Regions from separate parts of the Homo sapiens genome. Here region 2 is linked to region 1. Evidence: fine-mapped expression QTL. A gene starts in region 1. The other region holds a variant in brackets. All regions are shown on one strand. Distances are from middle to middle. Region 1 holds the start of LDLRAP1 (low density lipoprotein receptor adaptor protein 1). Region 2 overlaps LDLRAP1 (low density lipoprotein receptor adaptor protein 1).

What was found.
Region 2: its variant is fine-mapped to the expression of LDLRAP1 in whole blood (INTERVAL, PIP above 0.99).

Annotation. Positions count from the first base shown.
Region 1 is chr1:25,542,524-25,545,422 of GRCh38, forward strand. LDLRAP1 (low density lipoprotein receptor adaptor protein 1) reads left to right here and starts at 1,083. Exons shown (of 9, transcript NM_015627.3): 1 at 1,083-1,263. The coding sequence starts at 1,176. RefSeq lists an enhancer at 753-812 and silencers at 913-1,372, 1,403-1,582.
Region 2 is chr1:25,568,054-25,570,952 of GRCh38, forward strand. LDLRAP1 (low density lipoprotein receptor adaptor protein 1) reads left to right here. Exons shown (of 9, transcript NM_015627.3): 9 at 1-833. Among named protein-coding and RNA genes, the nearest start is that of LDLRAP1, 26 kb to the left of the region's middle. RefSeq lists enhancers at 1-186, 187-910. The variant T/C (reference allele first, on the strand shown) is at 1,521.

The sequences.
Region 1 (2,899 bases):
GCATGGGGTGGCCCAGCATGCTCAGGTGGTGCCAGGGAGCAGCCTGGGAGCTACGAGGATGAGTAAAGTGCCTGGCTGGACTTGCTAAAGGCAAATTTTTATATACCGACCCTGCGCCTAACAAGGGTCTATACTGCAAGCTTGTCCAACCTGTGGCCCACTGGCCATGTGAGGTCCAGGACGGCTTTGAATGGAGCCCAACACAAATTGGTAAAGGTTCTTAAAACATTATGAGATTTTTTTGGGCAGGGTGTGGTGGCTCACAGCCATCCCAGCACTTTGGGAGGCTGAGGCGGGCAGATCACTTGAGGTCAGGAGTTCGAGACCAGCCTGGCCAACATGGTAAAACTCCATCTCTATTAATAATACAAAAATTAGCCAGGCATGGTGGTGCATGCCTGTAATCCCAGCTACTCGGGAGGCTGAGGCATGAGAATAGCTTGAACCCGGGAGGTAGAGGTTGCAGTGACCCGAGATCGCACCACTGCACTCCAACCTGGGCAACAGAGTGAAACTCTGTCTCAGGGGAAAAAAAACAATACAGAAAAACAAAAAACATGAGTGTGTGTGTATATATATATATTTCAGCTCATCAGCTGTCGTTAGTGTTAGTGTATTTCATGTGTGGCCCAAGACACTTCTTCTTCCAATGTGGCCTAAGGAAGCCAAAAGTTTGGATATCCCTGGCTTACAGCCTCCACTATTTCCTAAGTCTCCCACTGCCCTGGACATCGCATTGCTTTTGTCCCTGAACAAGATCTTTCACCACTGGAGGAGCCCTCAGTCTCCCCATCTGTAAAATGGTCACTGGAAATCCTAGGCCGCTGCTCTCAGGCCCTCAGGCCCCTACGGGGTGGGGATTGGGGAAAAGGAGGAAAGCGGGGGCGTCTAGGGCTTGCGATTTGCTATCTTCTGGCGCCTTCGGGCGGCCTCGGAAACTCTTGGTGCCTGGACCTGGAGCCTGGACAGGGACCGGGCGGGGCGAGACCGGCCGTCGGGGGCGCGGCCCGTCTGGGGGCGGGGCCTGTCCTCTCTCGCCCCGCCCCGTCGGACGCCGCGGCGGAGCTGGCGCTGGGAGGGGAGGAGCGCGCAGCCCGCGCGCCGCAGGGCCGGGCGGAAAGTTTTTCCTGACGGAGTTTTGGCTGCGGCAGCGGCGGCGGCGGCCGGAGCGGGCCATGGACGCGCTCAAGTCGGCGGGGCGGGCGCTGATCCGGAGCCCCAGCTTGGCCAAGCAGAGCTGGGGGGGCGGTGGCCGGCACCGCAGTGAGTGTGCGCGCGTCAGCCGGGCCGGGCCGGGATCGGGCAGAGGCGCGCGGGGCCTCCGCGGGCGCCCGGAGTGCGGCCAAGTTGGGCAGAGGCGGGGCCTCACCGGCGCTCCGGTCCCGGCGTGGCCCTTTCCCGGCCCTGCGGGGCAGGGGGTCGGCCGGGGTCAAGTTGTGCACCTACTCGCCGGCCGCTCGATGCCGCTGCGAGGAGGGGCAGCGCTGAGGAAGGAGCCCGAGCTCGGGGTCCTCAGGTGCAGCCGGCATGGGGTGGGGTGCAGGTTGGGAGAAGAGGCCCCCGCCACCCGCGGCACCTCCCGCCCTGCTGTCCTGGCCAGCTAGGGGGAGGCAGGCGCTCGTCGTCGGTGCCTAGGGGAGGAGGAGAGGGCGCAGGGGCTTGGGAAGACGCCCCCGTCCCGCACCCCTGCGCCCCAGCCAGCAGCTGCGGCGGTCAGGAGCCCACTGGCCCGTTCTCCCGCCCCCTGCCCGACCCACCGGGCCAACTTTTGACTCCGGGTGCCCAGACACCCATCCAGGTGTGAGCCCGGGGTCGCAGGTACGTACTTGAAATTGGGAACGAGGCCCCGCCTGGGGTGCCTCGGGAGAGCCCCACATCAGGCGATCTAGACCCTTACGTCCCTTCCTCTAGCCGGGTCCAGGTGGCAAGCCTGGCGTCCCGACTATTTTTGAAACCTGTTTTCTCTCGCACCTTTCCCCTCGGGCTTCCAGAGTCCCTTGGGTGCCCAGGCAAACGACAGACTCGCCGCCACCTCTCCCTGGGGCGTCTGGGAGGCTGGGAGGGGCCTCCCCCCCTTTCTCTCCCCCAGTCTCTGATTACGCTCAGGGAACTTGTCACCTGGCACCTTCCCCTGAAGCCAGAAGACCCAGCCTAGCGCAGGTCTCGTTGTTTGGGAGGGAGAAGAGAGTGGCTTGCCTGGGGTCACACACACCTTCCTGCTGGTTTTGGAGCCAGAGCCCAGGACTGCTGCACACTCCCACCTCCCTGCCACCTACTTCGGGCCACAGCTTCTCCCCTCATCAGGAAACAACTGACAGTACAGCACCCCCTCATCCCATCCCCTCTTGGCCTTACAGGGCTCTGCCAGGGGAGCCCGAGCTCCCTGGTCCAAGGAGTGCCAGCGTGTCTGGGCCTAGAGGGCCCGCCTCCCTCCTCCTCTGGCCCCACTCTGTTGTTCAGCTGTGGCCGCCTCCCAGCTGAGACTGGCATTGGCATTGGGAATGTGGGGTGGTGCCTGCTGGTGGGGGGTGGGGTCAGAGACCCATTAGGGCTGGGCCACTAGGCCAGGGGATGTACCGTTTATCACACTGATTGCATCCCAAAATAGACCCTTTAAAAACTGGCAAGATTTGACCAGGACTTCTGAGATGGCCATCTGTTCCAGTGGGAGAATCCTGCGGGTTTTCTCCAGGAATGAGGGAGGGAGGGTGGTGGGGCAGCCCCCAGGGAAGTGGTTTTGAAGGAAGGGGGGCTGGCAAGGGAAGGGAGGCTAGAAAGAAATATCTCTGAATCTGGGGACGTGGAAGAGGTAGCCGCTTTGGATGTGGAAGAGAATTTCTCTTGCCATCTTCAATCTTGAGCAAGTCACTTGTCCTTTCTGATCCTCGGTTTCCTCATC
Region 2 (2,899 bases), 26 kb after region 1:
TCCTCACGCAACTCACACCTCCTTTTCTTCTAGCTTTGTTGTCCTCCCAGGAACCAAAAAACCCCAGCTATTTTCTGACCAAAATGTGTTTCATAACAAACCATCTGGTGCCTTTCCACACAGAACTGGCAGGAGCCTCGTGTCCTGCTAGCTGTCTCTCTTGTTGATTTCCGTGAAAATGCAAGTGTTTGAAGTCTGCTCATTCCGAGGGTGAAACAAAATCCAACCCTGTCAGAATCATGCTGTTCTCTTTGCTGACACTGTGACCCTGGGTCGGGACAGACCAGCAGCAATCTGTCTTTAGAATCGCTTTCCTTCCTCCCCTTTTGCCCCCGTGGGGCTCCCGGCATCCTGAAAGCCAGCAAAGCCTCCAGCATCTTTTCCATCCTGAGGTGCCTCCCAGTGGCCTGGCTTGTCGGAGCAAGTTTCATCAGCCCTAGGGAAAACACGGCCCTCCTGGGAACCTCCTTACCTGGAGTAACCGGACACCTTAGACGGAGGTGCCTGAGGGTGGGGTGGGATTTGCAGGGTCATTATCAGAACATGAGGATAACTTCCTTGCCCCTGCTCTGTAGCCACCTCCTTGGCACCGGCCTCTATTTGTCATAAGGCGGCGTGGGCGAGGCCTGACACAGGCCAGCCTTGGCACGAGGGGGGCCAGGGGTTCTGAGAAGCGCTGCCCTGTGAGAGCCACGCTGGCCTTCGTCTCCATCTCTGGTTGACGGGCTGTCCGTGTGCCTCCTGTGTGTCTGCAGACAAGTCTTGCTGTGCTTTATTTGTGAAACTTTAATGAGGAAAAAACAAATAATAAATGTTCTCGTTTTGAAACTCAAGCAACGCTCATCAGGTGGAGTAGACTGGCGGCAGCGTCCGGCGGCTCCTGCCCTTTGGGGATGGCAGCAGCAGTGACCACAGGCTGGGTGGGGCCGCGTGCCCAGGGGCAGCACTGAGTGGGGGTGATGGTCTTAGGTTCCTGGGGTTGAAGGCCCAGTGGGGCCCCCTTTTCACCCAGCAGCTGGGTGTGTGTGTGATGAGGTCACCTCTGGATGACTCATGGAGGCTACACCAGGGATCTGGTGCATCGGCTGAAGCGTCTGAGAGCCCCGGCGGGGGACTGTGGCCAGGCTGTGAGTCCCCTGCAGTGTGCATGAGGTTGTGTACGTGTCCACGTGGGCGTTTTCCACAGAGAGGATGTCCATTATTTCCATCACTTTTTGGATCCGCAACACTTTATCATTCCACAGACTTGCTCCGGGCTGAACGTGGACTGGGCCTGGGTCTCAGTACTGGGGACAGGGGTCCAGGCGTGGCCCAGATGAACTCAGGATGTGTGGTTTGGGTGTGTTGGGGGATGGTGGGAAGTATTTCAGTGTCTTGAGAGACTCAGGGTCTAGCCCTAGCTCTGCCACTTGGAGGCTGTGACACTTGATCAGTCACCTCTTGAGCCTTGATTTTCCCGTCTGTGAAAATGGTGCAATGACCTCCCCGCTTTTTACCACCCTGGGTTTTGTGTGACTCAG[T/C]GGTGACCATCATCACATTGTTGGTAGAACACTTGTGCATTCAGGTTATCTCAGAACCAAAGGCAACTGGAACTCAATATGTCTAAAAATGGTAAAGTAAAATAGTTAGCAACCAGTGTTAACTGAGCTCTTACTATGTGCCGGGTGTTGTGCTGAGCTCTGCACCATATTGCAACGGTTGTGCTGAGCGCAGATGGCAGATGGCATTAGCTCCCGTTACTGCTGAGGACACTGGGCTGGGAGAGGAAGGCAGCTGTGCTTCAAGTGCTGGGCGGGGCCACAGCTGAGCCGCCAACCTGTGTGGCCCTTACCCCGCCATGTCCTGGCTTCCCAGGAGCCCAGTCTGGCCATATGCTGCCCGAGACCACCTGTTGACCTGTGCGGTGACCCTCACAGAAAGGCCACTCTCTTCAGGTTCTTTCAGCCACTCTCCGGAGATTCCCCAGGCCTCTGCCCCTCAGCTGTGGCTTGTGGGGGTCCACTTGGACATGTATCTCTTTATCCCTTTGAAACTGGTATTTTAAGCGTCCAGAACCCAGAGGCAGAGCCCTCATATCAGCATCAGGCTGACTCCCTGTGAATTCTCAGTGGTTCATGGATGACTAAGAAATCCTCCCCTTTCTTCTTTCCCTCATAATCTGAAAAGACACCCAACAAGTTTATCTTTCGGTTTAAATTTGGCCAATGTCTTTAGTCTCCGGATGTCTCGGATTATGAATCCTGAGCGCCAGCCGTCTGCTCTTTCATGCATAAGGGATGAAGCCAGGGAGAACAAAGTCGCCTTTCAGATTTGACGTGACTTTCAGCTTCACTGGGTGGATGTTGGGGTCTGCTCTCCCAGGAAGAGATCCCATCCCATGTACATCTGGGGACTTTTCAACAAGCCTGGCTAGGGAATAGGGGCAGATTCACATCTGGGGGGCTGGCTTGGGGCCTGGTCTTCCTCCGGCCATTCCCAGGTGCTCATCAGAGGAGGTGCCCGTTTGTATATTAAGAAGTAACCCGGCCGGGCGCAGTGGCTCACACCTGTAATCCCAGCACTTTGGGAGGCCGAGGCAGGCGGATCACGAGGTCAGGAGATCGAGACCATCCTGGCTAACACGGTGAAACCCCGTCTCTACTAAAAATACAAAAAATTAGCCAGGCGTGGTGGCGGGCGCCTGTAGTCCCAGCTACTTGGGAGGCTGAGGCAGGAGAATGGCATGAACCCAGGAGGTGGAGCTTGCAGTGAGCCGAGATCGGGCCACTACACTCCAGCCTGGGCGACAGAATGAGACTCCTTCTCAAAATAAAAATAAAAATAAAGTAACCCTTGGGCCTGTTAGGTCTTTTGCACCTAACACTGGTGATACTAGTCCTTGCAACCTCACATGCTACCA